2 separate regions of the Homo sapiens genome follow, and region 1 is linked to region 2. Evidence: fine-mapped expression QTL. A gene starts in region 2. The other region holds a variant in brackets. All regions are shown on one strand. Distances are between the middles of the regions. Region 1 overlaps UBR3 (ubiquitin protein ligase E3 component n-recognin 3). Region 2 holds the start of UBR3 (ubiquitin protein ligase E3 component n-recognin 3).

Evidence for each region. PIP is the estimated chance that this variant, and not a neighbour inherited with it, causes the effect.
Region 1: its variant is fine-mapped to the expression of UBR3 in monocytes (Fairfax 2014, PIP 0.95).

What each region holds. Positions count from the first base shown.
Region 1 is chr2:170,075,280-170,091,803 of GRCh38, forward strand. It overlaps UBR3 (ubiquitin protein ligase E3 component n-recognin 3), which reads left to right. Exons shown (of 39, transcript NM_172070.4): 37 at 4,535-4,744; 38 at 5,266-5,405; 39 at 6,447-8,852. The coding sequence ends at 6,564. It also overlaps the pseudogene NSA2P5. Among named protein-coding and RNA genes, the nearest start is that of MYO3B, 95 kb to the right of the region's middle. RefSeq lists enhancers at 2,497-3,276, 16,116-16,524. The variant G/A (reference allele first, on the strand shown) is at 7,579.
Region 2 is chr2:169,818,763-169,835,286 of GRCh38, forward strand. UBR3 (ubiquitin protein ligase E3 component n-recognin 3) reads left to right here and starts at 8,692. Exons shown (of 39, transcript NM_172070.4): 1 at 8,692-9,290. The coding sequence starts at 8,746. METTL5 (methyltransferase 5, N6-adenosine) reads right to left here and starts at 6,143. Exons shown (of 7, transcript NM_014168.4): 1 at 5,727-6,143; 2 at 3,181-3,295; 3 at 2,330-2,511; 4 at 799-881. The coding sequence starts at 5,835. RefSeq lists silencers at 6,689-6,892, 8,486-9,045, 9,306-9,435 and enhancers at 10,453-10,954, 10,955-11,454.

The DNA.
Region 1 (16,524 bases), 260 kb after region 2:
ATTCACAGAGCATATAGCAATAATTTGACATCATACTTTGATGTCTGAAAACCTATGCAGGATGACATGGAGTAAGAGGGGTATAATTGTAGAACCAAGGCAGGGAAAAAAGTGATGAGCACACCCAGAGTTTGTCTTCATATGAGCCATAGGTTAAAATCAAGCCTACATTTTAGATGAATGATTATTGTATGTATGCTGATGGAAAATAAGAATTTTTCATTTTAAAATATTTAATCTTTTCATATAATTAGGTGATAATTATTGTAGAGGCAGTGTAGTAGACATTTGATTAATTTATTAATTTATGCTAATGCAGAATTTTTGCCAGTTATGTAAGTACACCACCATTTGACCTGTATTCCCCCTTGTGTCCCTGCTCCACTCTTGTGTTCCTAACCCTGATCCTGACCCTAGGTCAACCAGATTCTCTTTCTCAGGAATGTTAAATCTGTATAGCGAGACTTAGCAGGGTAAATGGTGACAGGAGCTGTATAGTCCAACAGTACTACCCTTGAAAAACTGTCTGTGAATTACTACTTCTGAATTTTTTTATCAGTTAAGATTCTTTGTTTGGGAACAACAAAATCCAGTTCTGATTTAAAATAAGGAAAACCAAAGCAAACTATGACAGAAAAAAAAAAAAAAACAGGATTCATTGGAAGCATACTTGGTAACCTGCAGAATTGAAGAGCTTAACTGTCATCGCTTGGGAAGAAGAGAAACCACAAATATCTCTGCTCTGTTTTCTCTGAAGTGCTGCCACCAGATAACTAAGCCTCAACCATTTTCCTTCCTTTAATTTGCATGCTCAAGGTTCAGATTCCTGGGAGAGAGAATCTGGTTGGCCTAACTGTTGTAATACATATACCCCAGTGGTGGGGCAGGATCTTGTGTTGGGGACAGCCCCATCAGAACTGTACGGAGCAAGAAAAGGGGTTATTTTCTAAAAGAACTTATAATGTTATTAATATAAGAAAGCAGCAAAGGATGCTAGGAGGATTTAAAAAACAAACTAGTGGCCCACTACTTTCACATCTTACCTGCCTGGCTCATACACACCCTTCTTCTCATTCACAGTTTCACTTCTGCTGTTGAAAATGATGTAACCATTTTACTTATGACTGCAAATGCATCTGTGACTTTCCCAAATAAGCAACCTGATGTCACATATAGTCCTTACATCATCAGGCCTCTCTGCATCCAGTAGCTCTGAGAGATGTCCATTGTTCCTGTCATTTGTACTCACACCCAGATGGCCTGGAAAATTTTAATTAGTACCTGCTCACCCTGAATTCAATAGTAAGAGAATGAAAATGTTGCAAAGATATATGATACAGTAAGCAAGATTTGCAAGTAGTCATAAAGCTGCAGCTAATATACAGTCAAATATATATGACTTTCTTCTTTTACCATCCGTGATCCAGCACACCTCAACGGATGATTGGATTTGTTTGAGCAAGGATGTGATACCAAACTTTATTCTGAAAGGGCTGAGCTTCTGGTGATTGGTCCTGTCTTTGTTTCTATAAGGCTGTAATCATTCTGTGTTAAATTTCTGCCTTTCAAGCTTGGTCTATGGTAGGGGTGGTGGTAGGGGTTTTTAAGTTCCAAAATATTGCTCTACCAATTGTATGGCAATATTTTTATTCTTCTTGATAGTCATGGTCAATCCCTCCAGGCAATGCGATAAGCCACCCTTGTGATGTTATAAACCGTACTAGAGGTTAGACAGTACATAGCTTGTAAATCCGCAGAAGAGTCCGGAATAGCAGTGAAGCAGAAATTTAAGACCGAATTTTTTTTTCCATTTTAATGTTTACAATTTAATAAATCTCTTGATTGCAGACATGTAAGGCTGTTTGGTAGTATTCAGAAACATCACAGTAATGGCAGTTTTTTCAGTTGGTGTGTAGTCTTCAATAAATATCTATGAAAGTGCTGTCAGACCAGTAAGACTGCATTTATACATCCATCATTTTCAGGATTGTTGGTAACCACAGCCTATTTTCCCCAAATAACCTTGCCTCCTTGTGTCACAAGGCCCAACTCACATTCACCTCAGTAACAGTACCTTTGGTAATAACATCCAAAGTTATATACATTGGGAATGAGGGACTCTTCTTTACACCAAGTATTGTTAGGCAAAAGGTGGCTTTCAGTTCAGGATGTGTTACATGGGCTTTCTTGAAACGCAAGCCCATTGGCCTGATGAATCTTCCATAGATAAGTAGTTTTCTTGTAAAGCCATCTCCAACAAAGCAGACTTTAGTAACCATCCTCCTCTATGCCTGCGTCTTTCTCTTTCCTGTTGGAATAACTTTGAGACAGAGTCTCACTCTGTTGCCCAGGCTTGAGTGCAGTAGAGCGATCTTGGCTTACTGCAACCTCAGCCTCCTGGGTTCAAGTGATTTTCCTGCCTCAGCCTCCTGAGTAGCTGGGATTACAGGCGCCTGCCACTATGCCCAGCTAATTTTTGTATTTTTAGTAAAGACAGGGTTTCACCATGTTGCCCAGGCTGGTCTTGAACTCCTGACCTCAAATGATCTGCCTACCTTGGCCTCCCAAAGTTCTGGGATTACAGGCATGAGCCACTGCACCTGGCTCTGTTCAAATAACTCTTAACACTTCTGTATCTCCCTGGGCAAGTTACATTTAGACAGAGGGACTTTCCATTTTCCTGCTTTCTCTTTTCATTTCGGCTTAATCATACTGGGAAGTACGTTAGCTTGAGGTTGTCCCTCTCTGTCCAGCAGATAGGCAGGTACTGCTCCCTGTGGAGTCTTTCTTTTGTCTGGTGTTTCTCTTTTCATGCATCTTGATGGTCTTTTTCATTTGTATTTTCTCAGCATGGTGCTGTTTAAGATAAAGCTTAGCCTTCAGACCAATCATTTTCTTTGACTTCTTTGAATGTTCATAAGCCTCTCAACTTTCCTTCTTTCCCTTTTTCTCATGGTAATCCAAATGATATCCATGGCATTTACAGTGTAATTCAATATATTTGATCTGTGGCATGGCACAGGCGCAGCCCCTGGGGTGCGAAAATGCTCTCAATTTTTGGGTCTCAGAGACCCACGAGTGAACTCCACACAGGCCGCAACAGGAAAGGCAAGACCGAATTTTAGGTGTAATCATGAGAGGTGTTACAGCTGTTAAATACTTTCCACCTCTTGTTTCCCATACATATGCATTCCAATTGTGAAAAAGGTCACCCATATATACTGGTTGCTGTTTAGAGCATACACATTCTGTAGGTGATTTCTTCCAGCTGGTGCCATCTAAAAGTTTGTAAATTTCATGAATTTCATAATTTTTGTGGCACTGAAAAAATCAGTTTTGTAGTTCATGATTTAAAATACCACAGCTTTTTTCAGATGATTGAATATATGTTAAGATCAGTGAATTCCATGGACATCCACCTGTTGCCTTACATCTCTCTTCATGAGGGAAATTATTGGAGGTAATGTGCTATGGGCTACTGGATAACATGCAGCCTAACCTATAATAAGTGTCAAGTTCAGTGAGGACAAATTGTTATCCCTTCCCTTTAATGGAAGGGTTCCACTGTAATCAACTCATTACAGAATGCCATCCTTGGAGTCCAGGGTTGGGTGCTGAGTATTGGCAAATGATGTATTGTATACTGTTCTTATCATTGCTTCCATGGACACTTAATCCATGAACTTGTTGATGAGGAACAAGCTAGCTTAGTTACTCCACTGATTTAGGTGGATTATGGCTGCATGTAGGTAATGTGAGATGATCTCCATTTAAATTGACTATTACTTACAGTTTCTTAAGATAATAGACTCACTCTACATTTTATCTTTTTTAAGTGTGAATGGAGTAGCATCTAGAAAAATTTAGTGCTGCTGCCAGTATTTTTATACAGCTGCAAATAGTTAATAAAGCATACCCTTCAGGGAAATTTAACTAATTTGACAATTTTTTTATTCTTATAGCAAGACATTTATGAAAAGAATTGTAGCCCAGCACTTATGGATATAAAAGATCTTAACAGCTTGAGGTGCAATGAATTGTACATACTCTAGGAAAGCAATTCTACATTATAAAGTATTAAAGTAGAAAAAATGAGTTATAACCATGATCTGTCCTAAAGAAAAAGCTAAAGAATTGTTTGAGAATGATCAAAACTTGGTTTTAAAAAATACGTAACTTTTAAAAACCTTTGCACTATGCATGTTTAAAGTCAAATACAATTAGATGTATTTTCCCTGCATGCTTAGAGATGGTGTTTTTCTTTTAAAGTAATAACAAGTTTAAATGTTTTAAGGTGCTTAATCTAAAAAATTAAATCATACTGTAATTGGAAACTATAATACATTAGATAATGGTAACTGTTGAACTACTATTTTAGTCATGTATAAGATGGAAATGAGAGGAGTGTTAATAAAGAAAATAAGCCACATTCTTGGAGGCAGATTTTTCTTTCTGTAAAAATACATTTAAAAAATATATTGTGTTAGTGACTTAAATACATAAAACTAATGAATATTTTTGGATAATGTTTTAGGCCTTGCTTATCCAAGAGTCAAAATGGAAATTACCACACCTACTACAGTTGCCTGAGAATTATAACACCATTTTTCAGTACTACCACAGAAAAACCTGTAGTGTCTGCACCAAGGTTCCTAAAGATCCTGCTGTTTGCCTTGTGTGTGGTACTTTTGTATGCCTGAAAGGACTTTGCTGCAAGCAACAAAGTTACTGTGAATGTGTACTGGTAAGCAATAGTAGATAATACAAAATTTATGAAAACACAGATCTCATATCACAAAATATGGTCAAGCCATCTCTTCATATTAACTACTCTTTGAATTAAGTATATAATACATATAGGGATTGTGTGTGTTTTTTAATCCAGTAGAAGAGTAAAAAAAGAAAGTCTTTGAGGCTTTAAGTGAGTAAATCCTTCCTTAAGTACAATTCTAGTTCTCCTTTCATCTACTATCCCTTTAATGGTATGTACTTTGGAATGTGCTGTGAAACAGAAGTCATCTGTGCTGTTGAAGATACTAGACTCTGAATTAGGTTGGCTCTTAATTGCTTTACTAGATATTCCTTACCCAAATACCTCCTAATGTATTAATAATAAAGTGTTAGGAATGGAGTTATAAGTTTAACTTAAATGAAATCTTACTATTTTTAAATCACTGTATTATTTAGAAGGCATTAATATATTCTTGATTTTATTATAAAGCCTATTTGATTATGAAGTTCATTAATATATTTTTAATTTTTTAGCACTCTCAGAACTGTGGTGCAGGAACAGGTATTTTCCTTTTGATCAATGCATCGGTAATTATCATCATTCGAGGTCACCGCTTCTGCCTCTGGGGTTCCGTGTATTTGGATGCTCATGGAGAGGAAGACCGGGATCTTAGGTTAGATGTTCATGGATATATCCAGGTGTTTTATTGAAATTTGGTCAGTGAAAACCAATATGCTATTCCTGGCTTTGTAATTACAATTTTTTTAATATTAAGAAATTCTGACAGTCATTAATTTAGAGCTATTTCTAGTTTTTGAGCTATTGTCCCTATCAATACGTTGAGGAAACATGAAATACACCAAATTACCATGTGAGGTTTTTGCCACAAAGAATCCGTTGGCCAGGCCCAGTGGCTCACACCTGTAATCTCAGCACTTTGGGAGGCTGAAGCAGGATTGCTTGAGCCCAGGAGTTTGAGACCAGCCTGGACAACATAGTGAGACCTCATCTCTACAAAAAAATAAAAATAAATAAGCCAGGTGTGGTGGTCATACACCTGTGGTCCCAGCAACTCGGGAGGAGGTGGAAGGATCGCTTGAGCCCAGCAGGTGGCGGCTGCAGTGAGCTGTGATCGTGCCACTGCACACCAACCTGGGCAACAGAGAAAGACTGTCTCAAAAAAGAATCTAGTAAAAAAAGAAATGTGGTAGGTGTGGTGGCTCACGCCTGTAATCCCAGCACTTTGGGAGGCCGAGGTGGGTGGATCACTTGAGGTCAGGAGTTCGAGACCAGGCTGGCCAATATGGTGAAACCCCGTCTCTACTAAAAATACAAAAAATTAGCCGGGTGTGGTGGCGGGCCCCTATAGTCCCAGCTACTCTAGAGGCTGAGGCAGGAGAATGGCATGAACTCGGGAGGCGGAGCTTGCAGTGAGCCAAGATCGTGCCACTGCACTCCAGCCTGGGTGACAGAGTGGGACTCCGTCTCAAAAAAGAAATAAGTAAATAAAAAATAAAAAAATAAAAAAAGGAGGCAGGCATGGTGGTGAGCACCTGTAATCCCAGCTACTCGAGAGGCTGAGACAGGAGAATTGCTTGAACCCAGGAGGCGGAGGTTGCACTGCGAGAGACTGTCTCAGAAAAAAAAGAAGAAAGAAATGCATGTGAAATCTTCCGTGTATGATATTAATACTTTTTTTTTCTTTTTGTTCTAGGCGAGGCAAACCTCTCTACATTTGTAAGGAAAGATACAAAGTTCTTGAGCAACAGTGGATTTCTCATACTTTTGATCACATCAATAAAAGATGGGGTCCACATTACAATGGGCTGTGACTCTCCACCTCAGCATTGCATCGTATCATCATTTTCGCTACGAATTTATTTTTCAACAATAAGCTTTAACTTAATTTGGGGGATTAACACTTTTGCTGAGGGAGAAAAAGAAAACATACATTATGAAGCCTTTCCAAAATTAGGTGCTTGGTAATCACGTTAATGGTATAATTTTTTTTTTTTAATATCTGGAGAACATTAATAACAAGTTAAATTATTCTTTAGTGGTCATTTTTTAAGTGCACAATTAATAAGAAGCACAACTTGTTCACAAACTCATTCAGAAATGATTCTCCCAACAATGCGTATCAGCTATTCATTGATACTTAGAGTGGGTGTGATTTATTTGACATTTTACTGCTTCTTTCTGTCTGTGTGTTTTAATTTGCATCTGCCAAGCATAATGCATCTTTTTTCCTCTGCCATTCTTGTGTTGATTGGAGAATTTTTCTGTATGTAATTAGAAAAAAATGTAAAACATGATTTATGTGAAATACTGTATAGTAAAAGTTGGTCTAATAGTAGAACTTTAAAATTTTTTCTTATTGTGAGGAATCTGTTAAAAGTTTAAAGCTTTGCTGAAAACTGAATTCATTCTCAGGAATTTCATAAATCTTCTCCCCAGGTAAATAATTGAAATAGCTGTAAAATAAGTAGATAGCTGCTGTTAATATAATACAGTACATTTTGGGGGGCATATGTGTGGTTGGGGGGTCCTTAAAAATCAAAATTTGCCATTTCAGTTGGATGAATTACTAGAGGTAATAACAAATCTTACTATGAAATCAAGAGGTTTAAGAACATACACTGGGCAGATGTTGATTCCGTGCATGCCCACCTTTTATTACCAAACAAGGTTTTGTTTATATGATTGTATTAGAAATGCTCAGACTTCCCCAGAAATGAACCATAAATTTTGGAACTTCCTTTCAGCTCAAGAGGTTCAGCTATATTGTATTTGTGCAGTGTAATCACTACTATTTCTGCTCGGTTTCCTAAAAGGAAAAAAAAGGC[G/A]CAGTGGTGATGACCCTCATGAATGAGCCACGCTTCTGCATTCTTCTTAGAAACTGCTGTGAAAAACAATTTATGTTTGCAGGGTTTAAAAATCAGTAAAAATGGGAATGATTGAGCTAAAACCCACTCTATGAGAAGGAAGATTACTGAAAAGCATGTGACATATTGCTACAAAGATTTTTTTTCCTAAATGATTCAGTAATTGAATGATTATTTAATATATAGTGCTATCAAGCAATCCCTGGTACTTTGGACTTCCATGGCTTGTTATATAAAATTACATTTTTACATGTAAAAATAAACTAAACAAATCTAATGATAAAATATGTCAGATCCATGTTCTAAAAAATTTTTGTAATGACATGACATTACAAGAGTATAAAAATGGACATTAAATCATGGCCTTGCATTAAAATATGGAAAGCAGAGCAGTACATATTCAAATGTATTCAGAAAGTCAAAAGATTACCTATCGTTCTACAATAAAATACATGGAAATAGCTTGCTATTTTTATATACATTTCCAAAATATTAAGATAACTTTCTGTAAGAGTCAATGATTCTGTTCGACTAAATAGCTGTCCTTTCCAACACATTGCTACTTTTTTAAATACTGTATCATAAGTTCAGCCTGTCATACTTTTTGCATTGATCGTTATGAATACCAGACCATTTGTAAGTGTGGTTGAAGAGCAAAATGCTAATTGACATCTCTAGTAAATACTGTTACAGGATTCATGAACTTGAATAATTCTACAGTTTGAAACTCTGATGCTATATATACATGGTATAATGTATTCAGACTTTGATTACTACTTATTTAAAATGGAATGTTTTATGGTTGTGCATATGGATGTGAAGTGAAAATATTAGCCTTAACTTTAAAATTTGGGTGTTTGATAGTGTTTATTTTGATATTGGTGAATTAGTCACCAGTAAATTTTAAAAAAGCACTTGGTTGAAAATTGTACTTGAATACATACATGCATGCTGCTAAACTAGAACTTTAATTTTTCCCCATAACTTTTATAAGTCCCATTTATAAACCCACTTTTAAAAATAACAGGTCCAAGTTAGAGTGATGTGTGTATATTATTCAAAAAAATGTACTGGTGTGATATCTTGTATGAATGATCATTTAAATACAGTACATTACTGTAGAAGCTAAATTGATCTTTATAATTAAGCAGAAATTACAAAACTAGGAATAATCAACATTGTAAGATATGTTAATAAAAACCTGCTGTCATTTGGTTTGTGAAAGGTCCTTAAAATGTTTACTGCTTACATGTTTTTTTTTCCCCCAAAGATATTGACAGTAATATATGTGAGTGAACATGGCTGAAAAGATCAAAGCACAACATAATTAGTAGTTGCTTTAGGGTGGAGTAAGTGTAAAGGGTTTGCTTTGCTTTTTTTCTTTTATTTGCAGAGTGAGTTCTTGCTTCTTCAGTCCTTGTCTCATAATCAATGCACATTCTTTGCTAAGTGTGTGTGTTTGGTAGGGGGAGAAGGAAATGGGTATGTAGATCTGAGGAATTGTGATCTCTGTTCTTTTCTGAAAGTTCCCAGCCAGACTTCAGAAATGTTTAGTGCTTTATGAGAATGTTTATTTTGAGTGGTTTGCATTCTTGTTTGAATTGACAGTCCTCACCCCTACCTCTCCATCCTGAAGCTCACCAGCCATTTATCAGCTAGCAGTCCATTTCTCTTCAGACCTTTCTCTGTTTTATGTATTCCGATATTTACTGATTTCTGTGACTTAGAAAAAGATGCTGACTAAAAGCACTGAAGGCTTAGAGGAAACAGCAATATGGGAAGAGATGTGGTCTAAGACTCTCTGTATTATCTCCAGGATTCTAATTGCTGACTCTCAAATGGCTGTTGATGGCTTATATTTGAGATCATATTTGGGGTTGGGGGGGACACAAAGCATGGTTTTAACCACTAGAATCAAATCACCGAGAGAAGATGAATTCATTGGTGAGGATGCCTGATGATTGATGATTGTGGGAGAGCAGATGACTTATGACTGTGTCTCAGTCCCATTCACAGCACATAGTTCTTTCCTCTGCCTTATGATCTGGCTAGATGATATCAAGCACTGCTTAGTTCAACAGGGATGAGCTGGAGTGGGCAAAACAGCAACATGATCACTTCTCTATTTATGACACTTCAAGCTCCCTATTAATTAGGCATATCAGGTATGGAAGAGCTATGACCTGCCATCTTAGTGTACAGTACAAGTAGTGGAATGAATGTGACTTCAGCTGATGCAACACAGTGAAAACACACAATGGAACCTTGTGTAGAGCTGCCTTTGTGCAAGTTAAATTAATGTAAGATGTGACAGTACCAAAATCAGTGAGGTAGAGCCCAAGAGCAGACCAGAAGGAGTGGGGTCAAGAGCACAGATAAAAGCTTCAGGTTGAGGGGAAAAGATACAAGAGAAAAGGAAAGAAAGTCTAGAGCAAAATAAGAGGATTTGTGTCTGATTCCCTCTTCTCTTGGTGACAAAGGAGCAGGATCATGTACCGAGAGTGAACAGGCCTAGCATATCTGGGGGCTTGAGATAAGTGGCAAAAGCTTAGACATATGCTAGGAGAGAGAACAGGCCAGAAATAAGGGGAAGCACCACTGAAGTTATATTGACAGCCAAGTGGGGTTAGAAAACCTAAGTTTAATGGAGCCAGTTAGAAAGATTCTGTAACTTTGTGGAGCCCCTGAGTTTAGCAGCTTAGGACCTGAAGGATAGAAATTAGACTGCTAAATTAACTGGGGTTTGGAGACACGGATACAAAATGTAAAGGATGCAATATAAGTTAAGAGAATTAGGGGAGCTGGTTGAAATGAGTGTGGGGTTCATGTTGGATTTGTAGGGGCGTAGGATTGGAAGACACAATAAGATTTAGTAAGACAATGAACTCTTTCAAAGTTTTCTTTTGAACTTACGCAAAATTGCTGCAATGTTGAAGCATTTAAATTCGTTTATTTAGTAAATATTTATTGCACTCCTCCTGTGTACCAAGCACTATGATAAATACTGGAAATACAGTGGAAAAGAAGTCAGATAGTCCCTTCTCTCACCTCGCTTTCTGTATGATTAGTGTTACAAATGGTATGTGTGTTTGGAGGAGAAGAGAAGTAGAGTAGAAGGTGCTATAGATGGACCCTCTAAACCAGACTTGGGTGTATGAGGAGGCTTCCAGTGGGGAGAGATGATGATTCCCAAATATTGTGTAGGTGATATCTGGGTGAAACAAGTGTGGAGAGTAGTGATTCAGGCAGGCATAGAGAATATTGTTTGCGACGAGTTGAGAGAGCACTTGTGGATGTGAAAGGGAATCATTTTGACTGTAAGCATAGGTGCTTTTGAGAGGTAAAATCTAAATTACAAAGAGTTTTGTAAGCCATGCTGAGGGTTTTAGACTTTTTTAGAGAGCAATGGGAAGGCATTTTAGGGCTTTAGATAGTAGAGTGACATCAGATTTGCATTAGAAAAGTCAACCTGGCTGCACTCTGGAGAAAAATCCACTAGAGTGGAGAAACCTGCCAGGCATCTGTTGAAAGACTCCAGATAAAACATGATAGTTGGCTCAAGTAGGGGAGTTGTGGTCGGGACAGAGAGATGTGGACAGTATCTGAAGAGAGTTGACAGAATGCAGTAACATGAGGGACGGCCAAGAATATTGAGTGCCTAAGGTGTGCCAGATACTAAAGTAAGTTATAGGGATCCCACGTTGAACAAGACAAAGGGTCAGTGTCTGCCTACAGTCTGGTGGAAAACAACACTGATTATGTGATTACAGTTCAATAGGATGTTATCAGCAAGTTAGTCTATGGGAATCAGTAGACTCGTTTAGTTTGGGAAGTTCACAGGTTACATGGAAGAAATGATGTTTAAGCCAAGACCTGCCTGAAAAAGTGAGCTAAGTGAAGAGGGAATGGGGGAGGGCATTCTAAAGAGTGCAGCACATAGACCCTGAAATAAGAATAAGGAGGGTTGCACTCAGGAAACTGAAGGAAGTACAGTATGGTTGAAGCATAGAAAGCAGAAGAGCATGTGGTAAGAGCTGTTGCAGGAACAATAGGCAGGAATCAGATCATGGCTTCCTGAGTAGTGTTATGGATGTTGGGCTTTGTGGCCTCTATTTTGGTTATTACCTCAGTTTAGAGCAGAGGTCAGCAAACCTTTTCTATTTTGGTTATTGCCTCAGTTTAGAGCAGCAGTCAGCAAACCTTTTCTATAAAGGGCCAGATGGTTTCTGTCACAACTATTAATCTCTGCCAGTATAATACAGAAGCATCCTAGACGTACACACACACACACACACACACACACATATGCATATGGATGTGTATGTGTGTGTGTGAATGGGCATGGCTGTGTTCCAGTAAGACTTAATTTACAAAAGCAGGCCGTAGGCCAAGAGAATGAGAGGAGGGGAACAGGAACATTTGGGAAAACCATTCAGGAGGGTAACTCAGTAGCCAGAGGAGAGATGAGGATGGTGTATGATGTATACTAGGGCAGTGACAGAAACCACTTATGTTCTGGCCTGATGGTTGGTTGTGTTATTTCATGAGCTAGAATCAACTTTATCCAGGTATAAAGTTGAATGTGATATGTACAGATTTTGACCAGTTGAAAGTGAGGCTTTTGTGAGTCATCCAAATGGGGATGTGATAATTGATGGGTTTGAAGGGTAGATGCTCAGGGGAGTCATCACCAACAAACTGTAACTGAAGCCGTGGGAATGGATCTCATCCAGAGAGAAAAGGGCCTGTGGTAATACCCTTAAATACTATCTTCATTTAGAGGACAAGCAGAAGATGGTTAGCCTGAGGACAAGATTTATGAGAGACGCAGATAGGAAGGAGAAAATTTGGAATGTGAAATCCTAGAAGGAATTATGTTTTTTTTTTAAAAAAAGGAACCAGTCAACAAGTGTCAAGTTCTGTGGAGAGGTTAAGAGCCAAAATGTATTCATTGGATTTTGTGACAAAGGAGGCAGTTGATATCCTTGATGAGGATAGTTTTGGTGACGTGGTTGGGGTAGCAGCCAGAACATGGCTTTTGGAGGTTACAAAGTAGAAAATTTGGCAATAAAGTGGAGGAGTAGAACACACATTTCCTTACTCTCCCTGGCATGGTCAGGACTTCTGCAGGACACCTGGACGTGTTTGCACCAGAACCTACTTCTAATTAGATGTTGTGTTTAGTCCGATGGTATTGTTTACCATTTGAGTTACTTCTCCTTACATGAGTATATCAATTAGGAATGTGTCCTGTTTCAAGCCACAGAAAACCTGACTAAGAAATGGCCTAAAGAAGTAAGGAGTTTATTGGTTTCAGGCAAAAGAAAGGCTGAGGCAGACATACGAGGAAGGGGCTGCGGCTCAAGGGAATCAATATGGATCTCAGCTTCTCTTGTTTTCCTTTTCCATACCATTAGATTATAGGTTTTATCCTCATGGCTGCAAGATGACTGCTAATATCCAGGCTGCTATGAGGATGAAAGCGAGATAGTAGCTCACCTCATTTTCCAGGCAGGATAAAAGCAAATGGGCCAAAAGCCTTTTCCTAAGCCTTTATCCTGTGCTCAACAAGAGAAGCCCTTTCCTGGTGCACTTGTACATACACCTCTTTAGTCAGTAATGGTAGGTGGCCGCTACAAAATGCGAGGAAATCTGGAGGGGCCGGGGGGGGCGGTAATTTTAGCTTGCGAGCTGCTGTGCTAGAGGAATCCAAAGGCAAAAAGGATTGTGAGTGGCTTTTTGGTGGCTAATTCAATATCTGCCACACTTTGGTTTCTTATCTGTGCAATGGAAACAATAGCTAATGTGGTGATTAAATGAACATAGACACTGTTGCTTCCAGTAATGGCAGAGTAAGTGATTCAGACTGTATTAGTTGTCTATTGCTGTGTTTCAGATTACTGTAAAACATAATGCCATGAAACAGTACACATTACATCACAGTTTCTGTGGATCAGGAATCCAGGAGCAGCTTAGCTGGGTGATTCTGGCCCAGAGTCTTTTACAAGACTAAATTAAGGCGTTAGCCACGGCAGCAGTCATCAGAGGCTTGATCGGGGTTGGAGAATCTGTTTCTAAACTCACTCATATGGCTGTTGGCCAGAGACTTCAGTTTCTCGCCATGTGGGCCTCTCCACAGTGCTGCTAACAACAGCAGCTGATTTTCCACAGAAGAAGTGACCCAAGAGAGGGAGACACAGAACACATAAGAAAGCATGCCTACAAGGAAAGCCTCGGTGTCTTTTATCACCTAATCTTAGAAGTGGCATATTATTTCTGCCAAACATGCCAACCCAGAGACCATGTAGGAGGCTACACAAGAGTCTAAATACTGGGGGGAGGAGGGATCATTAGGGGCCCATCTTACTGAAGAAAAAATGCCAAATGAGTGGGCAAAAGTTGAAGAACCAGGTTTGCATTGTTTCGTGGTACATCCCTCCAGGTACATATGAATTACAAAGGGAAAGATTGTAGCTTTACAGAAGAGAAACCTGATAGATAAGTGATTAAAGTTCATTATTACCAGTAAAGACTTAATAAACCCCTAAATATGATTCACTGAGAAGTTATATAGTATCATTACTGCAATATAACTGCAAATGTTGCATAACTTCATTATAATCATGTAAAAACATAGGAAAAAGTCAACTGAAGGACATTCTACAAAATAACTTACCAGTACTCTTTGAAAGTGTCAAAGTGAAAGAAGAGGAAAAATCAAAGAATTGTTACAGACTGTAGGGGACTGAGGAGATATAACTAAATGCAATGTGAAATCTTGGACAAAATCCTGACACCAAAAATAGATCATAGTGAGAAAACGCAAAATCCAAATAAAGTCTGTTGTTTAGTTAATAGTATTTAGCTAATTTCTGATTTTGATGATTGTGCTATGTTTCTGTGAATTGTTATATTAGGGGAAGCAGAGTCAAGGATATACAGGCACTCTGTGCATTATTCATGCAACTCTTCTGTATATCTAAAATTTATTTAAAAATGGGAAGTTTTTTTAGAAAAGACCAATAACCTAAGAAAGCTTTCCTCAAATAAAAAGACCTGAGTTCATATTGAAAGAGCCCACAGAGTACCAGGAAAATTGATCATCAATAGTAAACTTCAAGACATACCCTAGAAAAACTATTTAACTATAAAGACAAGTTCCCAAGACTTACAGAGAGAATTAGACTGGGTATTAGACTTTTCACAAGCAAGAGCAAGGCAAAATTGAGCAGAATTTTCAAGAACACCTCAAGGAAAGAAAGTGTAAGCCAATGATTTTATGTAAGGTCATGCTGTCCTTCAAGTATCAGATCATAGAAAAATAGTTTAAAGTATGCCTATGTCAGTCTTTCCAGTGAAAATCTACTAAAAGATTGGCTTCATTTAACCACAAGTAGACTGGAGGAAACTTCAACTAGACTGTTGAAGTGGAGGTATTAATTGTACTCCAGCTCTAAAACAAAATCAAATCTTGGTCACAGACTGCTATTACTCTCCAGTGCCTGGAAAAAAATATCCTCTCTGGAGACTGATGACATCATCCTAATTCTCAAACTATTTCTGAAAGTGTTTCAGGTAAACAAACATGATGAGACAATACACAAAAGCCAGAATCAATAGAAAAATAATAAAAACAGATCACAGGGACTCCAGTTGTTATAATTACTTGACTCATGTAACTTTTTATTTGAAAAAATTTTAGAGATTCTAGTCCTGAAAAGATAACCAAAAATAACTAAATGGAGCTGTTTATCAGATGAAATACAGCTAAAGAAAGACTTGGTAAACTGGGTTATAAATTAGAAGGAGGCATATAGAATAGAGCACAGAGACTAAAAGATGAAAAAGGAGTAAGAGGTAAAAGACATAAAGCACCCTGTGAAAACACCAAACACACTTGTAATTGGAGCCTCAGGAAGGGAGAGGAGAGAGAATATGGCAGAGACAATATTAGAAGAGATAATGGCTGAGAATTTTTCAGAAGTGATGAATGACATTGAACCATAAATTCAGGAAGTTCAAAAGATCACAAATAGGATAAATGGAAAATAATCCATACCTAGAGAAATAATAGTGAAACTGCAATGAATAAAAAGTATCTTAAAAACTGCTCAGTGGAAAAAGGATGGATTACCTCAAAAGGCCTCTGTCTTCTTAACAGTAACATTGGAAACAGAGCAATAGAAAAATATCCTCAAAATGTGGAAAGAAAATAACTCTTAACTGAAGATCCTCTACACAACAAATACTCTTCAAAAATGATAGCAAAATAAAGACATTAAAATAAAGATGGAGAGAATGTAACAGCAGCATAACCACACTAAGGAAGGAAAACACAAAAAGAGTTTTTGGGCAGAAGGAAAATAAGCCCTGCTGGAAGATTAAATTTTGGCAAGAAAATAAAAATTGTGAATATATGTATAGTATAACTAAATGAACACTTTCTGCATAAAATGATTATGATACTGCATTATATGGGATTTCAGTATGTATGTATGTTGGTGTTTAACAGAAATGTAATAAGACGGGGATAGATGTTCCAAAGTCCTTGCATTATCTCAGAAAATGGTGAAGGTTAATATTATACTTAGGACATAGTTTTAAGTCCTTGTTGCCTTAGATTAGGCAATCATTTCTTAGATATAACATCTAAAGCAGGGAGTCCCTAACCTCTGGGCCACGGACCCATACCAGTCCAAGGCCTGTTAGGAACCAGGCTGCACAGCAGGAGGTGAGTGGCTGTGAACAAAACTTCATCTGTATTTACAGCCACTCCCCATGGCACCCATTACTGCCTGATCGCCGCTTCCTGTCAGATCAGTGGTGGCAGCAGATTCTCATAGGAGTGTGAACCCTATTGTGAACTAGCATGTGAGGGATTTAGGTTGCTTGCTGCTTATGAGAATC
Region 2 (16,524 bases):
AGCTAACACATAGCAATTACACATGTCAGACACTGATCTAAGTGCTTTGTAAATATTAACTCATGTAATCCTCACAATTCTTATGAAGTACAATTGGTACTCTCAGTCCCTTACACTTAGAGTACAGGTGAGGATAGTATAGATGACAAAAGCTCAATTACCTTGATGATGAAACTCAATTACCTTGACCAAGAAAACAGCTGGGAGGCAGCAGAACTTGGATCTGAACCCAGAGAATCTGGTCTGGCTTCAGAATCTCTGTTCCTAACTATTGTGTTATACTGACACTAAAAAAATGTACTGCCCCTTCCCCCAGTTTCCTGGACTACAACTTATACACCTCTCCATGTGTTATATGCTGCAAAAGTAAGAATAGGTGATTTCTGAACTCAGATCTGTTTAGCTCCAGGCTCAAGTGTTCTGAAAACCTGGCCTTACTGCCTCCCTTAAGTACATCAGGCCACACCGGGACAATGGGACAAAAGGGATCAACTAAGACTTACTCAGAGAAACCAAAACATACAGTAATCCTAGTTACAACACACTTTTCTACTCCTGAGTTATAGTCTCTCCTCTGGCAACAGTTCCTGTCTGAAAAAAATCTTTGAGGAAATAAGTCTTATAGCCTGGAAAAAGGCCAATCAGATGCTAGCTGGTTAAGTGGAAAATTTAAGTTTCACATGTCAAAATGGTCAGGAGAAATAGATACTGTGGTATCTAGTATTCACAGCAAATCCTAAAAACACTGTCATGAATTTAAAAATCAATGCCACAGAATATCAGATGATTTGAACTTACTTCTCTAGTTGAGGATTTGTGTAAGGAATATACTGCTGTTCTTGCCATTTCCAAAGCAGTCTTTAGAAAAGCCATATCTGTCCCTGTGAAGAGTAGAAAAAAAGCTCCTATTTACCTCTTCTCAAAACAGAAGATTAAGTTAGTAGGATTTAGAAATATTTTCTTCCAAACTTCAAAATAGCCACCTTGAAATCTTTTAGCAATAAGGGTACAAATAAACTATCAAAATATTATTTTAAGGCTGGTAGAATAAAACCAGAATTATACTGTCTTGGTTAAATAAGGATAAAGTAAAAATTTTAATATTATATTCCAACATTAATGACTTCAAAAAGGGGAGAAGGAAATGCATAGAGTACTATTCAGAATCATCTTGGTGGGGGCAGGGTACTTTTTAAACTATGCATGTCTTTTTTTTTTTTGTTTCGCTCTTGTTGCCCAGGCTGGAGTGCAATAGCATGATCTCAGCTCACCGCAACCTCCGCCTCCCGGATTCAAGTGATTCTCCTGCCTCAGCCTCCCTAGTGGCTGGGATTACAGGCATGTGCCACCATGCCTGGCTCATTTTGTATTTTTAGTAGAGACGGGGTTTCTCCATGTTGGTCAGGCTGGTCTCAAACTCCCGACCTCAGGTAATCCACCCACCTCAGCCTCCAAAGTGCTGGGATTATAGGCGTGAGCCACCACGCCCGGCCAAACTATGCATGTCTTTTCCTACCCTCACTGACTTCCTAACCTCCTTGCCCACAGTACACACAAAATTAACAGCCACGGTGAGTCACTGTTACTGATGGGCACATGTAGAAACCCTTGGGTCTGTTAAGACATTAAAAAACAGATTCTGAAAGTATAAAATTCTTTCTATGTTTCGTATTCATTCATAAGGGTTAGGCAAATTATTCCTGAAAGCAAATGGGAGATATACAATAAATGACATGACTATCTTTGTTTACTTAATACAAATTTGTAAAAATGAAAGTTGAAAAACTCAGTTTCTTAGCCATGCATTAAACAAATTGAAATGTAAATTATAAGAACTATACAAATAAGAGATTGGTTTACTTAATGAAGAGTAATAACATCACTTAGCCTTGGTTTATTTAATGAAGAGTGATAAAATCACTTAGCCCAAACAGTGATAAAAATGGTTTTTATTTTTGTTTAATTTTTTCTAGACAGGGTCTTGCTGTTACCAAGGCTGGAGTGCAGTGGCACATTCATGGCTCATCGCAGCCCCGAATACCTGAGCTCAGGTGATCCTCCCACCTCAACCTTCTGAGTAGCTAGGACTATAGGTGCACCACCACACTTGGGAAATTAAAATTTGTGTGTGTGTGTGTGTGTGTGTGGGTAGAGGCAGGGTCTAACTATGTTGCCCGGGATGGCTACCAATTCCTGGCCCCAAATGATCCTCCTGTATCAGCCTCGCAAAGCACTGGCATTACACGCCTGAGCCACTGCGCCTGGCCTTAAAAATGGTTTTAAAATCTTTTCTATAAATATACCAATATACCCGATTCTTGTTACAAACCTTTATTATTTTTGGTCCCAAAGGGAGGATTCATAATTACTGTATCGAATGACTTGGACATTCTGTTAGATAATAAGCACACATCACATTGAACCATGTCAATATTTGTTAACTCAAACTCTTCTGCATTCCTATTAAATATTTCCAATGCGTCTTCATCTATGTCAAATCCAACACACAACCTATAAATACAAAACACATACAAAGAGTGGCGACTTATAGCTCCCAAGTAAAAACAAAACCAAAATTAGCTGTTTTTTTTTTAAACCATATATCTTTTTAACCCAATTAGCAAAGTAAGAGTGAGTGTTTTCTTCTTTTTTTTTTTCTTTTTTCAGACAGGATCTTGCTGTGCCACCCAGGTGAGTGTAGTGGTGCCATCTTGCACTGCTCAAGCAATCCTCCCACCTCAGCCTCCCAAGTAGCTGGGACCACAGGCGCACACCACCACATCCAGCTAATTTTTGTATTTTTTGTAGACATGGGATTTCACCATGTTGCCCAGGCTGGTCTCAAACTCCTGGGCTCAAGTAATCTGTCCACCTTGGCCTCCCAAAGTGTTGGGATTACAGGCATGAGCCACTGTGCCCAGTCAAGTGTAACAGCATAATTTCCAAACCCGGCAGGGGTTGGAAACTCAGGTTTGTATAAAAGGAACTGCTGCTTTCACCATTTTTATTTAATTTTTGTAGTTTGTTTAGATCTTCTGCCCATTCAAAATGTATTCAGTATCAGATTTTTGCTCCCTATATCTCATTCTGTGGAGTCTCATAAATATAATTCAGTTAATCCCATTGATGCTCCTTATTAAAGCCACCCAATACCCAAATAGCATATATTGCATTACGTACCCTGCTCCTAACATTGCAGTTCCGATGCTAAGTACTCCACAACCACATCCTAGATCTGCAACGACTTTATTTTCAATGTCATCATAAGTGTTATGGATTGTATAGAGCATACATGCTAAAAAATAAAAAAAAAAAGAATAAGTAAGCAAGCCGGTGACTAAAATCTAATTTGTGCAAATGACTCTTTCTAAAATAATTTCTTGTGTTGCATTACTTAGTCCTCCCCAAATGCCATTCCAGATTATTTTTGTAAAAGATAAGGGGTAATGATTTGGTATGTAGTAAGAGGCACCATAAAGGAAGCTAATACCCACCAGTGTTTCTCAAAAAATAGTCTCTGCTAGCAATGCCAAGAATGACAAAACTGTGCCCAGTCTCTGAGGTAAAATAAAAAAAAGTCAAAACGTTTAGTTTTTCCTCAGCTTGTTAAAAACATTGCCATATACTCATATCGGTTCTTTCTTTGATGCTGAAATATTTTTAAGAAAGAATGGTAAGAGTAAATAGTTTTTAAAAAAATCCTTTTTTGTCAACATAAATTTGGCAACTCTATCAATTTCCAAAATTGTTTTGAAATTTTACTTATCTGTGAAATCTATAAGACTAGGAACCACTATCAAACAAGCATTAGCATCACAAAGACATAGAATCTTTTTTTTTCTTTTTTTTTTAAACACAGGTTCTCACTATATTGCCCACGCTGCTCTCGAACTCCAGGGCTCAAGTGATCCTCCCGCCCCGGCTTTCCAAAGTGTTGGGATTACAGACATGAGCCACTGTGCCTAGCCACAGAACTTTGTTTTAACAAGTTTGTCACCAGAACACAAGCACCATAAGCTCCACAATGTAGCCTTTAGACACATATACTCATGATCTACAGACATATATATTCATAATCTACAAATGAGACCTGATAATAGAACTACTGGGTGTTAGATACACACTGAAGGTCAAACATGAATACCACCACCACCGATATTTCCCTGAAGATATCTGAACCCAGCAAGGACTGTTGGCCACTGATTCCTGCGGATCCAGAAGTTTTTTGTTGTTTTTTTTCAGAGACAGGGTCTATCTCTATCACCCAGGCTGGGGTGCAGTGGCGGATCAGAGCTCACTGCAGCCTGAAATTCCAGGGCTCAAGCAATTCTCCTGCCTTAGTATCAGCAGCTGGGACTATAGGCACATACTACCACACTAGGCTAATTTTTTTTTTTTAAGAGCTGGGGTCTCACTGTATTGCCCAGGCTGATCTTGAACTCCTGGGCTCGTCATCCTCTTGCCTTGGCCTCCCAAAGTGCTGGGATTATAGGGGTGAGTCACTGTACTTGGCCAGATTGTTATTATTTTTTAAACTGGATTCCACTAAAAAAACCTACAGTCAGAAGACTAGTAAGTCATTATTTGAGAAAACTGGTCTTAACCTAGACACAGTAGTTTTGTGTGAATTTTTGGTTGGAATCATGACAGTATCTTGGAGTTAAGTGTAAATACACATGTATTCTCCTTGACTTTCATTGACAACTTAGAAACAACTATTTTGGAACTGGAAAAAACTCCTTGCAGGTACTCTCAGAAAATTAATTTTCCTAAGGAGCCAGCCTCAGTGGCTCATGCCTGTAATCTCAGCACTTCTTGAGGCCCCAGTGGGAAGATCGCTTCAGCCCAGGAGTCTGAGACCATCTTGGGCAACATAGCAAGACGCTGTCTCTACAAAAAATAAAAAATATTAGCCAGGCATGACGGTGCATGCCTGTAGTCCCAGCTACTCGGGAGGCTTAGGTAGGAGGATCACTTGAGTCCTGGAGGTCAAGGCTGCAGTTGCCGTGATCATGCCACTGCACTCCAGCCTGGGTGACAGAGTGAGACCCTTATCTCAAAAAATAATAATAATAAAATTTTTTTCCCCTAAGGTTTCCCAATGACTTCGGTAACATAAATATATGTTGTCCTGTATTCTCTCTTGTACTCCCAGTATCAATATCTGGCATGAAGCAACAATGCTAATGCTCAGAAAATCTGTTAAAATATGCATGCTCATCTTTACACAGCACATACTCTGATTTTGTTAAACTATCATTCCACTATCAACTCTGGTATTCATTTCTAGGGCAGAGTATATAGCACAAGAATCCTTGCGTAGGCAATTAGTAGCAATGGGAAACTGATCCTTATTTAGTAAATGTTTACTGAGCTCCTAAATAGTACCAGCGACTCTTCTGGGCACTGGGAATTCAAGTATGAACAAGTCTAACAAATTCCTTGTCCTCAGAGATTGTAATGTGAGAAGAGAAAAAAACACATTAAAAAGATGTCTGGCAGTGTTAAGGGATATGCAGAAAACTAGACAGTAAAATGATAGTGTGTATGTCTGTGGAGGGTGTGCCTTGAGCTGCAGTGTCAAGGAAGGCCTCTCTAACGCGACAGGTGATCTTAGGGCAGAATTTCTCTAGACATTCTCTGTATCCAAATAACTGTTCTATTTTTATCACAGAGTAGACTGGACTAACGCCGAAAGCCGGGGCGTGGTGAACCAGCCGCCCTACCTGCAATGTGCGGCCTGGTAGGATACTGTTCCAGAAGTAGCTTGGGCTTTTCAAATCCATCCACTTGTTGCAGGCGACTCTCTAGTTCCTTAAGCCTTACTTTCTTCATTTTGTTTTAAAGTATGGACTCGTAGGGTTTGAAGGCACAGGATCTGCGGAGAAATCTATTGAACTGGGATCTTGTTTCCTCCCTACCCCCAACCTTCTCCCTTTTTCAGCACCGCTGGCCGGACCCGAAGACGCGCCCTAAGGAGACGCCCGGACGCAGGGCACGGGGCGAGCCTCTGACCCACCTCCCGGCTAACCCAAGCCGCCCCAGGAGACGGCGGCGGCGCACTGCTGGAGCAGCCTCAGGATCCCTCGCGCCACGACCACGCACCTCTGGAGGCGACCCGCACCTCGGCCGGTGCCGGAAGCGCCAGGCCGCACGCGCGCACGCGTTCGCCGCCCAGCGGCCCGGCGCCGAGCTGCAGCGTTTATCTTGAGCCGGGGTTCCGCTGGCCACCTGGGGGCCTCATTGCCCCATCCCCTCCGCCTGCAAAGCCTGCGCTACTTGCTGACCCACCGCCAGTCCTCGCCGCCTGTCGCGTGCTCATTACCCTCTAGTTTGCCATGAGTACCTGCGGGCCCTCAAAGGATGGGGAAAGACAGAGTGAAAGGGATGCGGGAGAGAAAGTCACAGTCACTTTGTTGTATGGCCCAGAGTGACTCTTCTTGTTTCCCAAGTCTCGGCTCAAAAAGTAGCGATCTCCATTCACCTTTACCTCCTTCTCCATTCTCATGCCTTATTTTATTGTAACTTTGTTTCCCAATTTTTAGGTCATTTGTGTCACTTGCAATTCTCACAGGAGTGGTGATGTCAAAGAAACCCAAAGAAGAGATAGTGGAGAGGCAGGGCGCGGCGGCTCACGCCTGTAATCCCAGCACTTTGGGAGGCCGAGGTGGGTGGATCACGAGGTCAGGAGATTGAGACCATCCTGGCTAACACGGTGAAACCCTGTCCCTACTAAAATTACAAAAAAATTAGCCGGGCTTGGTGGCGGGCGCCTGTAGTCCCAGTTACTCGGGAGGCTGAGGCAGGAGAATGGCGTGAACCCGGAAGGCGGAGCTTGTAGTGAGCCGAGATCAAGCTACTGCACTCCAGCCTGGGAGACAGAGCGAGACTCCGTCTCAAAAAAAAAAAGACAGTGGAAATGAAAATAAAAGAATAGGTAGTGGTGTCAAATACTGGAAAGAGGTCGGGCTTCATAAAGTAGGAGCAGAAATTAAGTTGTAGCAGATTGTGGAGCGAATGGAAATTTAGGAAGAAGAAAGAGTAAATGTGAACAATTAAACGTGGCCCCGGAAGCGGTGGCTCACCCCTGTGATCCCAACATTTTGGGAGGCCGAGATGGGCGGATTGCTTGAGACGGGAGTTTGAGACCAGCCTGGGCAACATAAGGAGACCCTGTCTCTACTAAAAATACAAAAATTAGCTGGGTCTGATGACGCGAGCCTGTGGTCCCAGCTGCTCGGGTGGCTGGGGTGGGAAAATCGCTTGAGCCCGGGAGGCAAAGCTTCCAGTGATCTGAAATTGCGCCACTGCACTCCAGTCTGGTCGACAGTGAGACCCTGTCTCAAAAAAAAAAAAAAAAAAAAGAAAGAAGAAAAGAAAGAGAAAGAGAAAGGTGGCCTACGAAAAGAATGGTTGGATGCTTAGTAATGGGGGAAGCTTTATTATTTTTTCAATTATTTTTAAGACAGGAGGAGACAAATTCTGACAAGAATTGAGCTAATAGAAAGAGAGGGGTTAAAAATGCAAGAGGATATTGGATGGAGTTGGGATCCTGAGAAGGCAGGATCCAGTGGTTAAGTAAAAGGATTGCAGGATTGCGTTTAAGCCTGTGGATGGACACCTCTTTGCATTATTATAGGAAGAAGAAAAAGAGTGAATGGACGATGACGAAGTAGAGAAGTGTCTGAGGCTGCTACTTCTAGGAATAGCAGAATTCAAAGTTATCTGTTATGAGAATCAAATGAGTTAAAACATACAAAGTTTTAGCATGTAAAGTTAATACATAAAGTTTTATTTAGTTTATAATTTAGTGATTCGTAAAATTATTGAGCAAATTTAACTTATCACTGTTATATGATGATCGTGACATACTTAACTCATGTAGAAGACCAGGAATAACCTGTTTTAATTATGTTTCATTCATTTCAAACACAAGGTTATGGATTGGAAACACTCCTGTTCTTCTTTGTTGTTGTTGTTGTTGTTGTTGTTTTTAGAGACGGAGTCTCGCTTTGTCACCCAGGCTGGAGTGCAGTGGCGCGATCTCGGCTCACTACAACCCCCGCCTCCTGGGTTCAAGTGATTCTCCTGCCTCAGCCTCCGGAGTAGCTGGGATTACAGGCGTGCGCCACCATGCCCGGCTAATTTTTGTATTTTTAGTAGAGACAGGGTTTCACCATGTCAGCCAGGCTGATCTCAAACTCCTCACCTCAAGTAATCCGCCTGCCTCGGCCTCCCAAAGTGCTGGGATTACAGGCGTGAGCCACCGCGCCTGGCCTTCTGTTCTTCTTTGGATTGCTTTTCCTACAGTTTTTGTTTTCCTTAAGTTGGGGTTTCATTCTGTCGCCCGCTGGACTTTGATAACAGTAGGAATGTACATCTCAGACAAAATGCAGATGCCTAAAGTACATCTGAAAGATGATGTGAATAATTCCTGTAGTCTATGCAAATAAAGAAATAATTGCCCTTATTAAAGATTTCCTATAAGGTGAGTACTTTATTTCAGTAGCTCTTAACTTAGAAAGTTGGGAGCCTAGCTTGGTCCACAGGCGCCCAGGAGAGAGGGGCGGGAGGAAGGCTCTGCAGCCCGAGGGGGCGTGTGTAGGGGCGGGGCTGCGGGCGGAGGAGCGCGGACGCTCCGGGTATCGCGAGAGTTGGGCGGGCCGAGCAATCGCAGCAGTCTATTCCCTCACTCTCCCTGGAGGAGCCGCTGGCCCTGGACTCTCCAAATTCTGAGCTCTCATCATGGCGGCGGCGGCCGCGGCGGCCGTCGGGGGCCAGCAGCCGTCACAGCCCGAGCTGCCCGCGCCGGGGCTGGCCCTAGACAAGGCGGCCACCGCCGCGCACCTCAAGGCGGCCCTCAGCCGGCCGGACAACCGCGCAGGTGCTGAGGAGCTGCAGGCGCTGCTGGAGCGGGTGCTGAGCGCCGAGCGGCCGCTGGCCGCGGCTGCCGGCGGCGAGGACGCGGCGGCGGCCGGAGGCGGGGGCGGTCCGGGGGCGGCCGAGGAGGAGGCCCTGGAGTGGTGTAAGTGCCTTCTGGCGGGCGGCGGCGGCTACGACGAGTTCTGCGCGGCGGTGCGGGCCTACGATCCCGCGGCGCTCTGCGGCCTGGTCTGGACAGCCAACTTCGTGGCCTACCGCTGCCGGACGTGCGGCATCTCGCCCTGCATGTCGCTGTGCGCCGAGTGCTTCCACCAGGGCGACCACACCGGACACGACTTCAACATGTTCCGCAGCCAGGCCGGGGGCGCCTGCGACTGCGGGGACAGCAACGTGATGCGGGAGAGCGGGTGAGTGGAGCCCTCCCCGCGGGCGAGGCGACCCTGGGCCGGGGACGTCGCGGGAGGGCCTGGAGCGGAGCACTGGGAGCCCACTCTGAGCTGTCAAGGGGAGGGTGCGGGGGAGGGTGCAGCCACAGGGGGATGGAGGTGACTGAGCTGTCAGCGGTGGAAAGGGGGTGGGGAGGAGAAGGAGGGGAGAGGAGAGCGGAGAGCATGTTTAGGAAACCGGGCTGTGAATTTTGGGGAAGCCAGGGTGGGTAAATGATAGCGAGAAAAGAGCCAGTGTATGGGGTAGGAGGGGAGTGAGGGGAAATGATTTTTGGGGAAGCTCGTGTCGAGCTGTCAAGTGTGTACTTGTTGGGAAAGGCTGTAAAGCCTGGTTCTTGGGAAGAGACTTAGGTTGTGATTTGGATTGGCTGGGAGGGGATGTTATTGGGGACCGTATTGGCTCGCGGGATGATGAGAGCTGGGGAGGTGGTCTTGTACGTGCAGGGAAGGACGCTTGAGGAAAAGGTCTTCTGAACTGCCAGTGTGTCTGTCACTGTGAGAGAAGGAGCTCTTGAGGGTTGAGGGAGGAGGGAAGGGGAGGGGCCTGCATGAAAAGTGACTGTTGAGCTGTCAGTGGATTATTTGGTATGCTGGAATGACATTTAGAATTGGGCTACTGAGCAGTCAGTTACAGAATACCCTCCATACCAGGAGAACAAACAAAATACTGAGCGAACCAGGAATCAAGTGTTAGGTCTTCTCCAGTTAAGGGCACTTTGTTCACTCACTGATACGTGAACCTCTGTCTAAAAGGAGACAACAAATGCCCTTTTGACAGAAGCGATGCATCAGATGTTGGGACTTATGAGAAAAGACATTTCAGAGTTTGCAGTGAGTTACAGAGAGTTGGTACATGTAGGGTCGTGGCTTGGAACATGATGTCAATGTCAGGGACAGTCTGAGAAAAAAGGAAAAAGTGAAAGGGGCGATTTTGGATGGGCAGTAGTTGAAAGAATATTAGCAACTACAGGTTGCTATCAGTTATTAAACTTCTTCAATTTTCAGGTCTTAGGATTAATGACAGAGTACAATCTTTTTATAAATGGTCACCTTTTTCTTCGGAGTACTTGTAAGGTTACTGTTACTCCAAAATGTTTGTACCTACTATGTGCAAGCAAGGCTTCTTGGATATTAAAAATGAATGAAACATTGACCAACCCCTTACTCTACTTGCACTGGAGTAGAAAGTAATAAATTCCTTAAACAATAACTTGGTAGCTAGAGGAGGGAGATGAGGTTTCTGTGCAGAGGGAGTAAGAAAAAGTCTTCAGAAAGGAGGTATTTTGAATTTGCTAATAATAATAACAACATAATTGCAGCTAACATTTGAGTTTTTTTTTTTTTTTTTTGAGACGGAGTTTCTCTCTTGTTGCCCAAGCTGGAGTGCAATGGCGCGACCTCGGCTCACTGAAACCTCCGCCCCCTGGGTTCAAGCGATTCTCCTGCCTCAGCCTCCCAAGTAGCTGGGATTACAGTCATGCACTACCACGCCTGGCTAATTTTGTATTTTTTTAGTAGAGACAGGGTTTCTCCATGTCGGTCAGGCTAGTCCCGAACTCCCGACCTCAGGTGATCCGCCCGCGTCGGCCTCCCAAGTGCTGGGATTACAGGCGTGAGCCACCGCGCCCGGCCAACATTTGAGTTCTTGAACTGTATGTCTGATACTTTAAAAGTACTTTTTAAAATTTAATATTTGAATAGGTAAAATATATAGCTAAAAAGTACACACACACACACACACACACACACACACACACACACACGGAAGTTTTTCTCACATCTAGTCTTCTATCTGTCCAGTTCCTTCCCGCTTAGTTTCTCTTGGTGCAGAACAAGCAAAGATGTTTCCTAGTTTTTCAGTCTCTTTTTATGCAAAGGGTTACATACTTTCCACTGTTCTACATCTTGCATTTTTTGGTTATCTTAGATGTATTTTTCCTATTAAAAAATCAGTGTCGTCATTCTATTTTTTTAAAAAAACTGCTGCATAGTGTTCCATGTTTTCAATTTGCCATTCTTTAATTTCTTTTTTTATTTTTATTTTTATTTTTTGTGCGTGTGAATTTGCCATTCTTGATTTAATGTCTCTTCATGGGCATTTGGCTTTCCAGTATAAAATTAAAAACGTGGTGTATCTGTCTTTTCCCCACCTGGTCAAGAGAGTCAGTGGGATAAATTCTCAAAAGTGTGATTTCCAAATTGCCCTCCCTAAGGCTTAGTACTAATTACTCTGTGAGACTGCCTGTTTTCCAACAGCCTCATCAACAGAGTAGTAGTAAAATTTTGGACTTTTATCTATTTGGTTAAAAGTGGCCAAATTCTAGCTGTTTTATGTGATTTAACTTATTTATTCTTTGACTCTGAGATTATTACTTTTATTATTCTCATTGTACAGAAGAGGAAAGTAGGGCAGAGTTAAAAACCTTGCTCAAGTTCACACAGGCAGTAAGCTAGGCATGCTGGCTCCAGGGCTCTGGAGCCAGACTAATCAACCATTTCTCTTTACTGCCCCTACTAAATAGCATTCTTACTGGTTTTTCTTTTCAATTCTATGTTTTATCTTTTTTTTTTTCCTTAATATGCTATTCTTATTTGGGCCTTTGTTTCTTTCTTTTTAAACTTTTTTTGTTTGTTTTGTTTTAAAGAGGCACATCAAAACAGGAGTTGGAGCAATCCTTTACTGATATTTAGACATTTTTACTTCTTGGACTGGGTTAGCATTTAGGAAAGCCTCCAGAGAACCTGAAGGTAGGAAATAACACTGATTCTTTCCTGACTTTTGGAATACAGTGGTAATTATCAGGTTGTCGTGGATGAGATGGAAGTCTGATCGCTTGTGATGCTTCAGTGTACTACCAGAAATATGTCAGTGAGTTTCTTTGAAGGTATTCATACAGTTTTAGGGCATCCAGGCTATAGACAGTCAACATCCTAACCTCATGGTATTTGCTTTTACTGGTGTCTCATAGGTAAGTATTATTTTCCCAGTCTGGCAACCCTCTATGAGTTGGTACATTATATATATATATATATATATTTTTTTTTTTTTTTTTTTTTTTTTTTTGAGAGAGAGAGTTTTGCTCTTGTTGCCCAGGCTGGATTGCAGTGGCACGATCTTGGCTCACCGCAACCTCTGCCTCCCGGGTTCAAGTGATTCTCTACCTCAGCCTTCCAAATAGCTGGGATTACAGGGATGCGCCACCACACCCGGCTAATTTTTTTTTTTTCTTGTGTTTTTAGTAAAGACAGGGTTTCTCCATGTTGGTCAGGCTGGTCTTGAACTCCTGACCTTAGGTGATCCACCCGCCTCGGCCTCCCAAAGTGCTGGGATTACAGGCATGAGCCACCACACCCGGCCGGATACATAATATTTAAAGATTTATTATTATCTTTGTCTGAAACCAGAGCTATTGCCTGTATGTGTCAGCAGTTGCCATGTCCAGTTTCATAAAGGGCAAGATTGAACAATAAACAGTATTGTGGCCATGCAATTACTCTGAATTTTTTCTAACTGCTTGGATTGGATAGAGTAATTTTCCTGGGCTATACAGCTAATTTACTGCCTCAAGAGAAATAGGTGATGTTGACCAGCTCTGCAACCTAAAAGACTGCCTCTGGAACCTTTTTAGAACTGGAAATCATCAACAGCTTGTAACAGTGTTCTCATGGGCAAAGCTGGACTACACTGGCATGAACAGAATGTTTGAACTTTTCTAAGTTTTTGGTATTTTAAAAACCCCTTTAGATTGCCAAAGATTGAATGTGTGTTGATTTTGGGGTTTTTATTCTAACTGCCATAAGTTTGTAAATTTCATGGTTTAGTCACTTTTAGAGGAAGGATTCCTTTTTTTCAGCTGTATTTGTGCTCTTAGTAAATGAGAATAAATCTTTCTGTGCCATAATCCTTTTCACCAGTGTCTGACTGTTGCCTGTAGGATGTTCTTGATTGGAGATGGAGAAGAATCTTGAATCTATCACAGCTGTATTTATATTTAATTTTCAAATTAGCAATTATAGAACTGTGGGGAGGATTTAGTTATTTTTGACTGAGTAGTATTGATATAATCAATGTGGCAGTATTAGCAGATATACAAACCAAAGGAAGAAAACAATTGAGGATTCATTTGTGGGATGAAATCACAAAGGCTATGGAAATTGTGTGCTAATAACTGTATGTGGCTGGGCGCGGTGGCTCACGCCTGCAATCCCAGCACTTTGGGAGGCCGAGGTGGGCAGATCACGAAGTCAGGAGATTGAGATCATCCTGGCTAACATGGTGAAACCCCGTCTCTACTAAAAATACAAAAAATTAGTCAGGCGTGGTGGTGGGTGCCTGTAGTCCCAGCTACTCGGGAGGCTGAGGCAGGAGAATGGCGTGAACCCGGGAGGCGGAGCTTGGAGTGAGCTTGGAGTGAGCTTGGAGTGAGATCCCGCCACTGCACTCCAGCCTGGGCGACAGAGCGTGACTCTGTCTCAGGAAAAAAAACAAAAAAACTGTATGTATAACTACAGTTTTGCCACTAGTGAGTAAGTGCAGTCATTGTCAGAAATGCTTTATGGGGGCCGGGCGTGGTGGCTCACACCTGTAATCCCAGCACTTTGGGAGGCCGAGGCAGGCGGATCACCTTAAGTCGGGAGTTCAAGACCAGCCTGACCACATGGAGAAACCCCATCTCTACTAAAAATACAAAATTATCTGGGCATGATGGTGCATGCCTGTAATCCCAGCTACTCTGGAGGCTGAGACAGGAGAATTGCTTGAACCCAGGAGGCGGAGGTTACAGTGAGCCAAGATCATGCCATTGCACTCCAGCCTGGGCAACAAGAGTGAAACTCCATCTGGAAAAAAAAAAAATGCTTTATGGGTGGATGAACTCAAAACAAAATAACCTGTAATGGAAAGTCTAAAATACACTCGTTCCTCAGTATATGGTATACATAGGAGACTGGTTCCAGAATACCCACCTCCCACCCACTCTTCAGGGTATACTGAAATGCTGCTTATATGAAAAGTCTGCCCTTCATGTATGTGAGTGTCAGATCCCATGAATTCTGCATTTTTGATCCATGTTTAGTTAAAAAAATCCTTGTATAAGTGGACCCTTGTAGTTCAAACTAGTGTTGTTCAAGGGTCAACTGTAATGTCTGACTAGCTGGTTTTGGGCTCTGATGGGATACTAACTGGAAACTGGGATTTTAAACATTTAGTTCTCAAATTTTGGTGCAGAGAATGAGGAGTTTCATGTTCTGTCCTATATTACAGATATTTTTGTCTCCTTGCTTGTTCTTCCTCACATATTCTAAGCTCCTTAAAAGATAAGGACCACATTTTGCTATTAGCCAGAGGCCAGCACCTACTAAGTCTCTTGTACTTAGGAGGTGTCAGTAATTTTGAATTAAATTGGATAAAAAAGTGGCTGCTATACCCAAAAAGTTACTGTAAGATTACATTGCTTTAGTTACTCATGAGGTGGCATTGATTATTAAATCCATAGCAGCTTTTTTCAGAGTGCTTTCATTCTTTTTTTAGTTTCAGAAGTAATACACATTGATTATAACATAAAAATAAGTGGATAAAGTAAAAAGTAAAGGTGCCTTTCTCCATCCTACCCCTCAGTAAGAAATTTCCTTTTCTTTTAAGGTTACTTATGTGTTTAAAAGAGATTAGTTATAATTTATCCAGCATTTCTAGATTTTTTTTTTTTTTAGTGACAGGTTCTCGCAGTGTCTCCCAGGCTGGAGTGCAGTGGTGTGATATCACAGCTCACTGCAGCCTCTACCTCCCAGGCTCAAGTGATCTCCCACCTCACCCTCCCAAGTAGCTGTGACTGTAGGCGCACACCACCACACACAGCTAAATTTCTTTTTGTATTTTTTGTAGAGATGGTATTTCACCATGTTGGCCAGGCTGGTCTTGAACTCCTGGCTTCAAGCAGTCTACCTGCCTCAGCCTCCCAAAGAGCTGGGATTATAGGCGTGAGCCACAGTGTGGTGCCTGGCCTGTGTTGTGGGAGGTTTTTAGGTTTTCTGATCTGTGGTAGCCAGAAATTGAACCACGTGAATGTCTGGTTGAATAGTGTTACTCTCTTCAGTAGCTTGCTTTTTTCCCCTTAACATATTTATGGATACTATCTCAAAAGTAGAACTGCTTCATTTTTAAAGTTAAATAGTATTTCATTGTATTTCCATGTTTTTGTAATGTACTATGATTTTTGCGGTCAGTCCCTACTGATAGACATTTAAATTGTTTCCAGACTTGGGCTGTTGTAAACATTGTTGCAGTCAGTATTCTTGTATACACTTGTTCATATGTGTGTGAGCTTATGTATGAGGATACATTCCTAGAAGTTATATCTTGGTTGAAGGAAATTTGCAAATTCAACTTTGATAGAACCCTCCAAAGAAATTAATTTACATTCCTGCCAACAATGTATGAAACAATTTGTTTCCCCATATTCTGGCAGTATATATGGTGGTATCAGTGTTTCTGATCTTTGCTGCTCTCATAAGTGAAAAGTTATATCCCATTTCATCTGTTATCTCCCTGTCCCACTGCTTTTTCGTCCCAGCCAGGACTATTTTGAAGCAAATATCAGATACCTTATAATTTAATTTAAAAATATTTGAGTATGCATCTCAGTAAAGAGATGTGAACTCTAAAACATAACTCAAATGTCCATCAGCAGATGAATGGGTAAGCAATATGTGGAATATACGTACAATGGAATATTTAACCTTAAAAAGTAATAAAATTCTGACACATTAGAATGTTACAATGTAGATAAACCTTGAAGACCTTATGCCAAATGAAATAGGCCCAGCACAAAAGAACAAATGCTTGTATGCTTCGGTCTATATGAAGTGCCCGGAATAGTCAAATTCATACAGACAGAAAGTAGAATAGTGATTATCAGAGGCCAAGGGAAGGGGAGATTGGGGAGTTATTTTTTTAACAGGTACAGAGTTTCAGTTTGGGAAGATGAAAAAGTCCTTGAGATCGATGGTTGTGATGGTTGCAAAACAATGTGAATGTACTTAATGCCACTAAAACTGTACACTTAAGATGTTTTAAATGGTAAATTTTATGTTATTTATATTTTACCACAATTAAAAAATAATGTCAGGTATGGTGGCTCGCACCTGTAGTCCCAGCTACTCCCGAGGCTGAGTTGGGAGTATTGCTTGAGGCTGGGAG